Regions from separate parts of the Homo sapiens genome. Here region 2 is linked to region 1. The links come from fine-mapping of genetic effects on plasma protein levels. A gene starts in region 1. The other region holds a variant in brackets. All regions are shown on one strand. Distances are between the middles of the regions. Region 1 holds the start of GNPDA2 (glucosamine-6-phosphate deaminase 2). Region 2 overlaps GUF1 (GTP binding elongation factor GUF1).

Evidence for each region. PIP is the posterior inclusion probability: the model's chance that the variant is causal. Protein levels are from antibody-based Olink assays in UK Biobank. Linkage for the fine-mapping came from a reference panel and not from the study's own genotypes, which makes the PIPs less certain.
Region 2: its variant is fine-mapped to the plasma level of the GNPDA2 protein (UK Biobank, PIP above 0.99).

What each region holds. Positions count from the first base shown.
Region 1 is chr4:44,724,426-44,729,812 of GRCh38, reverse strand. GNPDA2 (glucosamine-6-phosphate deaminase 2) reads left to right here and starts at 3,257. Exons shown (of 7, transcript NM_138335.3): 1 at 3,257-3,339. RefSeq lists an enhancer at 2,925-3,054 and a silencer at 3,547-3,841.
Region 2 is chr4:44,699,457-44,704,843 of GRCh38, reverse strand. GUF1 (GTP binding elongation factor GUF1) reads right to left here. Exons shown (of 17, transcript NM_021927.3): 17 at 3,916-5,387. It overlaps GNPDA2 (glucosamine-6-phosphate deaminase 2), which reads left to right. Exons shown (of 7, transcript NM_138335.3): 7 at 1,702-3,049. The coding sequence ends at 1,763. Among named protein-coding and RNA genes, the nearest start is that of GUF1, 24 kb to the right of the region's middle. The variant T/C (reference allele first, on the strand shown) is at 2,161.

The DNA of each region.
Region 1 (5,387 bases):
AAAGTGTTTGACAAAATTCAACATCCATTGTTGATTAATAAAACAACTATCAGCTATTAGTGAAATGCCTGATACCAAGGCTGGGTAGGAAAAATACAAGGTACACTCAGAGTCGTTCCGTGTTGGAGTCTTCATAACATACAGTCATGCATCACTTAATTATGGGGATACATTCTGAGAAATGCATCTTCAGACGATTTCATTATAGTGTGAATGTTATACAGTATATGCACACAAACCTAGCATATATACACAAACTACACATATATGGTATAGCCTATTGCTCCTAGACTACAAACCTGTACAGCATATTACTGAATACGGTAAGCAATGTAACACAATGGTATATATTTGCATATCTAAACAAAGAAAAGGTATAGTAAAAAAAAAAGTATAAAAATTAAAAAATATTAACAGTACACCTGTATAGGACATTTACCATGAAAGGAGCTTGCAGGACTGGAGGGTGCTCTGGGTAAGTCAGTGAATGAGTGGTGAGTGAATGTGAAGACCTAGGACATTACTGTACACTACTGTAGATTTTATAAACAATGTAGAGTTAGGCTACACTAAATTTATAAAACGATGTTTTTTTTCTTCAATAGTAAATTTAATTTCCTGTAGCTTTCTTACTTTATATTTAAATTTTTAAAAAACTTTTTGGCCGGGAGTGGTGGCTCACGCCTGTAATCCCAGCACTATAGGAGGCTGAGGAGGGGGGACCATGGGGTCCGGAGATCGAGACCATCCTGGCTAACACAGTGAAACCCCGTCTCTACTAAAAACACAAAAAATTAGCCGGGTGTGGTGGCATGCGCCTGTAGTCCCAGCTACTCGGGAGGCCGAGGCAGGAGAATTGCTTGAATCTGGGAGGTAGAGTTTGCAGTCAGCCAAGATTGCGACACTGCATTCCAGCCTGGACAACAGAGTGAGACTCTGTCTCAGAAAAAAAAAAAACTTTTTGACTCTAGTAACAACGTTAAGGTTAAAACACACATTGGAGAGCTGTCCAAAAATATTTTGTTTCTTTATATCCTTATTCTATAAGTTTTTTTATTTTAAAATCTATTTTTAATTTTTTTCCTATTCAAATTTTTTTGTTAAAATGAAGACACAAACACACATGTTAGCCTAGGCCTACACAAGGTCAGGATTATCAATCTCCCTGTCTTTCACTTTCACATCTTATCCCACTGGAAGTTCATCAGGGCAATAATGCACATGGAGCTCTCATCTATAATAACAATGCCTTCTTCTGGAATACCTCCTGAAAGACCTCCTTGAGGCTGTTTTATAGTTAACTTTTAAAAATATAAATAGGGCCAAGCATGGTGGCTCACGCCTATAATCCCAGCACTTTGGGAGGCCGAGGCAGGCAGATCACGAGGTCAGGAGTTCGAGACCAGCGTGGCTAATAAGTGAAACCCCGTCTCTACTAAAAATAAAACAAAATTAGACGGGCGTGGTGGCAGCTGCCTGTAATCCCAGCTACTCAGGAGGCTGAGGCAGGAGAATTGCTTGAACTCAGGAGGCAGAGGTTGCAGTGAGCCAAGATTGTGCCATTGCACTCCAGCCTGGGTGACAGTGCGAGACTCTGTCTCAAAAAAATAAACAAATAAATAAAAATAAAAATAGAAATAGAATGAATACACTCTAAAATAATGATAAAGAGTATAATATAGCAAATACATATACCAGTAACATAGTCATTTATTATCAAGTATTATATCCTGTACATAATTGTATGTGCTAGACTTTTATGAGACTGGAAGCACAGTAGGTTTACACCTATGTAGCCACAAACACGAGTGGTGTTGCTCTACAACTTTACGTTTACTACAATGTCGCTAGGTGATAGGAATTTTTCAGTTCTGTTATAATCTTATGGGACCATTGCCAAATATCCAGTCCATTCTTTACCTAAACTTCCTTATGTGGCACATATCTGTAATTCAAGACTGTAATTCAGTCTCCACCTTTCTACAGCATTCTTTCTAAAACACGTATGTTCTAGTCTCTTATCTTCAATTCATAAAGCTTAAGTGACTCCCTATTGCCTACAATACAAAGCCTAAATTCTATGCATAGCCTACAAACTACTTCATCATTTTACCTCAATCTTTTTTGGAGAGACAGGGTCTTGCTATGTTGCCCAGGCTGGTCTCCAACTCCTGGGTTCAAGCCATCCATGCACCATGACCTCTGAAAGTGCTGGGATTACAGGCGTGAGTCACCGAATCTGGCCAAAAATCGCTTTTGCAAACTTACTGAAGGCGATAGTACTAATAAACCTGTCTATTATCAGTATGTGAGCAATGTTGCTGTTTGAAGCTAAATCAACGAGAATGTAACATCCTACTCTTCACTAAAGGATGCAAGAGGAGTCATTACATTCAAAGAAGCAGGCTGGATTTACAACCCAGGTGAAAAACTTCATATAACGAGTTTGAGGACACAGCGTTTTACATTTTTTTAACTTGTAGTTTCCACAGAAACAGAACCTTAAGTTGGCTAGGAGTCAAGATTGTATTGTTCCTAACAGAACCCTAAACGGTGTTATTAATGGAACAGTGTTCCTGATGGAACATGGTGAAGACACAACACACTTTTCTCCTTTTGAATGATAGCTGCTTTCTTTACAATAATTTCCACAGCCCAATTCCTTCCCACTCCTGTATAAACATCTGTGATACCCAGCTCAAAGCTGATTCCAGCTTCCCCTATCCCTTTCTTAGACTCATTCAGCAAAAGCCAGTACCCTATTATATAGTGTTTTCTCTTACTGAGACGCTCCCGATTTCCCATGGTACTGTTTGCCCTTTTGCAAACTTTGATGAGTTTTTTGACACAAGACGCTTATCTGTCATTGCGTTTGCAAATATGCATTCAATAGCTTGGAGTAGAGAGAGAAATGTATTCATAAATGGCAAATATATTCATGTTGCCAAACAGCAACATAAGCAACAAAGTACGTGTGAGCACTACGGTCTTACATACTAAATCTCATAAGCCTAAAGAATCTACTGCAAATCCCTCTTTGAAAGATGGGGGGGAGGGGAAAGTAGCGTAAAGTGATGACCCAGAAACTGCGATCTTCCAGGCAAGAAGAGCGCCCAGCCGCACCGCACTCGGACCGAACTCCTCGCGTCTCACCTCAGGCGTCCTAAAGGCGGTGCGCATGCGCAGCGCCCGCCAGCCACGCCGCGGTTCCTTCCTGCGCCTTTATCTGCATCCGGGTCCGTGGGATTCGCGCTCCACTGGTCAGCTGGGGTCGCTCTCGGGTGGTTGGGTGTTGCTTGTTCCCGCTGTTCCAGCATCGAAGAACCATTGGGTCTGCCGGTAAGTTTAGCGGGGGGTGCGGCGGGGGCGCCAAGAAGGGGACTCGGGTCGGGGGACCCGACGGCAACTTCGCCCTGTGCGGCCTTTGTGCTGAGACTGGGACGCCGGGCCGGGGCGGAATGGGTGCTCAGGAACCTCGAGGCTGGGGGCGCGTGGGGTCTCCCGTATTGCCACTCGCGGACCTGGTTGTCCTCTCCGGATTTGTGCCTACGGGAGAAGGCGTCCCTGCCCTCTCCTCTCTCGCGGCTTCTTCTTGACACCTCTCTCTACACTCGTTAAAAATTCCTAACAGTCATCCTCATTTGCATTCGCTGTCCTTTGCCAAGTGAGGGCCAGGCAAACGCGCAGCTGAGGGGAATCTGCAGCCCCCGCCTCCCGGGCAGGAACCACAGCCTTCTTTGCTGTCTCTCGTCCCTCCTCGGGTCGGTCCCACACGCGCGGCCAGGCCACCCTTACGCTTTCAGGACAGGTCAGGTTGAGTAGGGAAAAGCTCAGAGCAGAGGTTCTGCAAGTGTAGATTCTGGTCTTGGCCCCGCCATTAACTAGCTGTGTAACTTCACGGGTGTAGAAGTTGTCATCCACCATTGAAGTTTTGCGATTTATATTCAGCAGCCCTTTTTCCTAGCGATGCACATCCAAAATGAATCAGCACCTGAAGGAAGACGAGGGAAAGGGTGGTGCTCTGTTGTTTTTTGATGCTGTCTTGTGATGCCAGAGAATTGCATAAGGCGACAATAGTTTGGATCTCTGAGGATTGGCAAAAACTGGAAAAGTCAAATCTTAAAAACTTAAATGTGGTGAAGAAATTCTTCTTTGCTCTGGGTGAAGGGATTCATTTGGGACTTTTGGAGGTGACTCTGCGCCCTCCAGAGAGTTTAAGAAAACAAAAAGTTGCCTGTACCTTGGTCTGAGAGACTTGCTTAAACTTCGTTTCAGTGAGATGTGTGGTGTTCTTAACAAATTTCACCTGATTATGAATATCCCCTGTGATAATTTGCAAAAGCAGAGATTCCTTGGACTTCATTTCAGATCTTTTGAAACACTGTGTCTAGGGAGAGGGACCTGAGAATCTGTATTTTTAACTAGCATCGTAAGTGATTCTCAACCGGTAAGACATCTTTGGCTAATGTCTCTTTGAGTCAGAAACACTTAGTTTTAAAGCCAGCTCCCCGGGCCACTTTTTAACGTCAGCAATAAACTTCTCGTAGTTGCAGTTTTCTGTATATGAAGAGTGAGAATAATGCTTTCAACCTCAGAGACAAGTGATTCTAAGCCCTTTGACAATAGAGTTAATCATTTTTGTGTCTACAGAACCTAGCATAGTGCTTAGAATATAATAGGTCTTCAAACGTGTGTTGAACTGAGAAAAATAACATGCCCAGGATGCAGAAGACATTGGAAAGCTCTAATGCTTCTCGTCCTCCTTACCTTATTTTTTTTCCGTTTTATTAACAATCAGCTGGCCATATATTCTTGTTAGAAGTAAATATATCTTTTGATGTTCATTACAGCCAATAATTCTTTCTGATTCTTTGGTTTAACTCTAAAATTGTTTTTGACATTAGATTATGGATTATATTTAAGTGGAGGCTGAGTCCAGTTGTTGGACTGAATTTATGACTTACTATGTAATTTATTTTCTGTAAATAAATAATTGTTATCGGGCCAGAATTCTAGATCATGGTGACCATGATTTTTTGTTGTTGTGTCAGAATTCGAAACTGTTACCTTCTTAAAGACATTTAGATTCCATACATTTATTTTAATAAGACCTTTTAATCTCATTAATTTAGAAAATTTGACTTATTACTCTATGTAAAGTGTGTGGGTACAAAACTCAGGAATGCTGAAACCATGTTATAAAAAGCTTGGTATTGGTGACTGATCCATTTAATATAAAAATAAGAATTAAAAATCTAAGAATTATGGGAATTATTACAGAATGTTCAGTAAATGTTATAAGGGGACGTTTATAAACTATTGATGGTAATGTCAGTTCAACTTCTGTAGAAAAAAGTATGAAGATTTCTCAAAGAACTGAAAATAGA
Region 2 (5,387 bases), 25 kb after region 1:
AGGCTCCACCTCAGTAGTTTGACAAAGGTAGAATGAGTTCATTTTGAGTCAAAACCATAAAAGTTACTTTGTATAGACATTGGTTAGAATCTGTGACATTTAACCTTTCTTCTGGTAACGTTTCAGGAAGTCTGGTGCATTTTTATCAGAAGAATTATTTCTGTTTGACTTAAGTAGCAATTATTTATTTATATAAAATTCGTATGTAGAAAGTTGTCAGTTTTTACCTAAAGTCACAGTAAATATTTGACTTAATATCTAAAAAGCAATTAATAGAATTTTCAAAATAATTATTTCTAGTTTGGAAGCAGTCCTATTTGATGTATAAAAGATATATCCAATGTAAAGAAAAAAATTTTATAAAGGAGTTGAATTTTTAATATTTACTGATATTTTAATTTGCATGTATTTTAAAGCTCTGTGTATTCTTTCCGTAATCAAAGTTGTTAGCAAATGACAGATGAATACTATTTAAGTAGAAAAACGATCCTCTACAAAGTGATACTCTGGAAAATGTTGCATCTTCTAAATCATACAGCTGATATTACCCTTATCTTTGTTGTCCCCTCTCCTACTGGACATGAAGTTTCAGGTGACCTTCAAGTAGGCTGTTGAGCAGTTGCAGGACTAGTGAATGGAATGCTTCCCCCTTCCCTCCTTTAGAGTCCCATTCTTATGGTTAGAATTTCTCCTACTACACAAACACTTCCCAGTACTCTTTGCTTGTCCCTTAAAAGTGGGTCTTTCTCAAAGCTGGGATTTTAGAGTCCTTTTTGCAGCCTTTCTGACAAGGAACATCTGTTTACTAACAAGCAACCTATCTCTCCAATCCAGTAATCCCATTTCCTGCAAAACCGCATTAAGTGCCTTTCCCCACCCTCCCATGTTCTTAATACCTGGAAAACTTAACTCATTTCTTTACCCTCCAAAATATAAAATCTCTGGTTCATTAACTGGGTCAGTCTTTTTAGAACTTTTTTCTCCCCAAAGAAATATAGTACTGAGGCATTAAAACAGGAGTAACTGGAAGATCAGCTATTTCCCAAGCAGCTTCCATAGCTAAGAGCAGTCTGCAAGTATATGTACCAATTACAAAATGAAAGTTATAATCTACCGGATTTAAAATCGTAATTTCTATTCTGAATTAAATGATTTAATACAGGTTGTTTTCTGTCTTGTTTTAGTAACCCTCCCTCAGTGTAGAATTTGTAATCAACCTTTGTCATAAATACACATGCCAAACTATTGGAAAGTAATTTACCAGACGAATGGATAGGGTAATGTATTAAGAGTGAGACAGCAGTTCTGAGCCCCTGGCTGGAGTCTAGTAGAGGAACTGCCAGAGGATCAATATCAACATAGACTTTTAGATATAATTAAAACCTATTATCTAAGTCAGTATTCAAATTTGTCATGCTTAATCTCTTTGAAGACAAGAAATGCTCTTCTGGTTACTCCCAAAGTACCTGTACACATTCTAGATCTGCACTGTTACATAATTATAAATTGGTATTTGCTAGGTAGATAAAACTTAAGACATTCTGAAACATTTCTATTTGTACTTTTTCAATAAACTTGACTATATCAAGATGGGAACTAAACAGGCTTACTGTGTCTTATAAAAAATACTTTGTTGTCTAAAGTAAATGAGATAGTTCAAAATTAATAAAAACAACTAGAACTGTGCTTTTTTTCTTTAAGGTCTAATGCATGTGCACAATAAACTTGTGGATCCACTATTCAGTATGAAAGATGGAAACTGAAGGAGACTGGAGCAAAATTCAGCTTGAATGAACAGAGCACTTTTTACTAAGTAGTAGATGAATTTTCAGCTATGCAATATGACAAAACATGGGGAATTTTGAAGATTGTCATTTTTTCATTCGAGTCTCTATGTTAAACATTCCATATTTTGAATATTTATATCTTGTACTTGGGTTTAAGAGAAGTAGCTGGCTCTCAAGATTGACTGGCTATTTATTATAAAGTACTGAAGTCACATAGCCACCTATAAAACAGCATAGAAATGTCTGCCTGTTTAAAAAGTCATTTTAAAGGTAGAGTGTCCACATCAGGCACCATTTGTGATATGACTCCAGTGGCGTATATTTCATTTTTTAATGACAAGACACTCCAAACCTTTCAGATAACAAACTATCA[T/C]TGCAGACCTTCACTTTTGGAATGCAATCTTTATATTTTCTGTGCATCACACACATGCTTTTCTGCACGTGGTTGCCTTAGTCATCTTCCTACAGCACCATCTAGACATCAAAAATTGTGCTATATATCATTGGTAAAGGAAATTTGAAGAGATGACAGTGCCTAAAAGTACAGTTTACATCCTTTTGGAAAGTATGTGTAAGTGCATGTTTTTTGTGCACCTTCTTCTATAGCACTTTTTTACAAATATCTTATTTTTATTTAACGACTTGGGTTCATGTCCCTAATATAAGTATCTTGACAATTATGAGCTTTATACCTAGCAAGCCACTTCAGGAAATTCTTTTGGAGAATATTTTCTGATTATTGTTAAACTTAATATACAATTAGCTTTATTCCTTATAAAATGTCTAAAAGAATAATACGAAGTATATATAAAAGGAATTACTGTAAACTACATTGCCATAGCAATTTACATAAAAGTATATTGTTTTTTATCTTTAACTCAAATAAAGCGTGTAATAAATAAGTTATCTAAATTTCCAGAAGTGAACCTGAAGAATACATGCATTCGACTCCCAACAATTATAGTACATGTGAACCTGCATTCATTTTGGGTTTGTTACCATCATGCATTAGGAGAGTTAGGTTAAAAGATGTCTTTGCCTCTGTGGGGAGCAAAAAAATGCTCCTTTTGCTTATTTTGCATTTCATAAGCCCACCTGGTAGAAGAAGCCTTACTTATCTGCTTGTCTATGTGATTAAAATGTAGTTTCTTAAAATATTAAAATAGCAAATAAATTAATGAAATAAAATTGGTAATAGGGTTTTATGGTTAAAAGTGGGGGATGGGGTAAATTATGCTGCTTTAATTCCAGATGATGTTTTAATAGCCTTATAAATGTTTTTTAAATAACTAGTGAGTAACACTCCACTTACACTTCCAGTAATAAGAATCATTTACTACAAACTATGCTGACTACCTTAGAAAGTCATACAGCATCACAGTGAAAAAGCTAAAGGTACCTGTTGTGCTACATGATTCACCAGTAATTTCTCTGCTTTAAAGGTCTAAAAATTCTCCTTTCCATTTTCCTTCCCTTGATGTTAGGGGCTTAGTTGAGGTTCATGTACTCAAGCTCCTCCACAAGCTGAGGAGCGAAAACTCTGGCCATTTTCATTCCTGCTTTCATTCCCTAAATTGAGGAGCTAAGCTGCTGTTAGGCAAAGAACCTAGCTTTTTCAAGAAACCAACCACTGAATCCCAGCTCTGTCAGGGAAATAAAAAAGTCTCAGCTACTTCCCCAAAATTTTTACATAGATTGAATAAGGGAAGCATACATAGCTCAGCACAGTGGTTGTCACATATTAAAGTCAATAAACGGTGCTATTTTAATATTGATAACAGTGTTTAAACATATTTCAGTGTTTGCTAAAATCTTAGTAATATTAAGTCCTCTGAGGAATGCACTTATAAAGCACACAACTCCAAATCACTAAAGTCATCTGACTGGGAAAGCGGGAAGGGGAAAGAAATTAAGCTTACAGAAAATGCTTTTTTGTACTACAACTAAAACTATAACTAAAACTACTTTTTTGTACTACTATAACTAAAGAGTCATAGGTTAAAAAAAGGTAAAATTAGTCTGAATAAAAAAGACTAAGACTGGTAAATTATTAAATAGCAAGCACATAGTACATATTACGTTCCAAGAACCAATTTGTAACTTATCCTTTGGCAGTGATAGAACAGAACACTTTTACAATTTTTTAATTTCAAATACTGTCATTTTCAAAATACTACTGTCATGGTCTTTCAGATTTCATCTGTTTTTATCAGAACCTGGAAGAGGGAGGGAAGATACATAAGATGATAATGTATGTATCTAGGACTATATCACAGGCTACTTCTACACATGATTTTAAGTAAATCTCCACTTAATTTATAATTAAAATGATTTCACAATAACTGTAAGCTCAAAATATCTGAGACAGCTCTCAAGTCAGTTTAGAAAGTTTATTTTCCCAGGGTTAAGGTGTGCCCATGACACAGCCTCAGGAGGTCCTCACCACATGTGCCCAAGGTGGTTGGGGCACAGCTTGGTTTTACACATTTTAGAGAGACATGAGACATCAATCAGTATGTGTAAGGTGTACATTGGTCTTGAAAGGCAGGACAACTTGAAGAGGGGCGGGGGCTTCAAGCATAGGCAGGTAAGAGAGAAAGGGTTGCATTTTTTTGAGTTTCTGATTAGCCTTTCACTGAATATACAATTTACATGTGAGAGGAGAGTAGAGGAATAGTCAGTTATACCTTAATCTGGCTTAGTGAAACATGAAACAGAGAAAGCAATCATTTATGCATTTGTTTCATGTGAAGACTTTGAGTTCTTTGTCCATAAGGAATTCCCTTGTGAGCAAATTTTATCTTTGTGGCTGTCTTATTTAGGAATAAAATGGGAGGCAGGTTTGCCTCAATCAGTTCCCAGCTTGACTTCCCTTTGGCTTAGTGGTTTTGAGATTTTTCTTTCATATAACCTTAGTATAAAATTCATCCTTGATAGTGTTTATCCCTAAAAGACATTTTCTTCATTCAATTCATTCAAGGTAGAAGATAAAAATCAATGGCTAAATGATGTTGTCTTGCTCTAATACAGTCTGCAGTCTGGTTTGTTCGTTGGCTGAATAAACATGGGAGCTGAGAGCTCTGGAGAAATACAGCCATTTACTGGCTGTGAAATCTCAAGTTAACTACTCTAAAATCGCTTCGATTATGAAATTTAGACAATAATTATTAAAATGTCATTATGAGTTCCTGGTAATACCAAACACCTGTCATTTTACACAAATGCGTTTTGAATGTCTGAAAGACAGCTCCTGCCCTTAATTTAGATGTAAACCATTTAGTTTCAAACTAACCACCTGATAAAATCTATAAACATTTTATCATTAACTAGAGCAGATGTCTGTTATTTGATGTCTATGTTATTTGAGTTTACTGTTTAATAAGTGAATTCATATCAATTAATCCTGCTAACAAATTTGACACTTAAGGTGATTCTGAAAATCCTTTAAACTTAAAGTAGATGGAATCTTAAGTATGGGGCCTTTTAGTGTCCGTAAAGAAAAACTGCATGCAACAAAATATAGCAGGTCCTCACTTGTTGAGATTCATGGAAATTGTGACTTTAAATGAAATGACATGGCTGGGCATGGTGGCTCACACC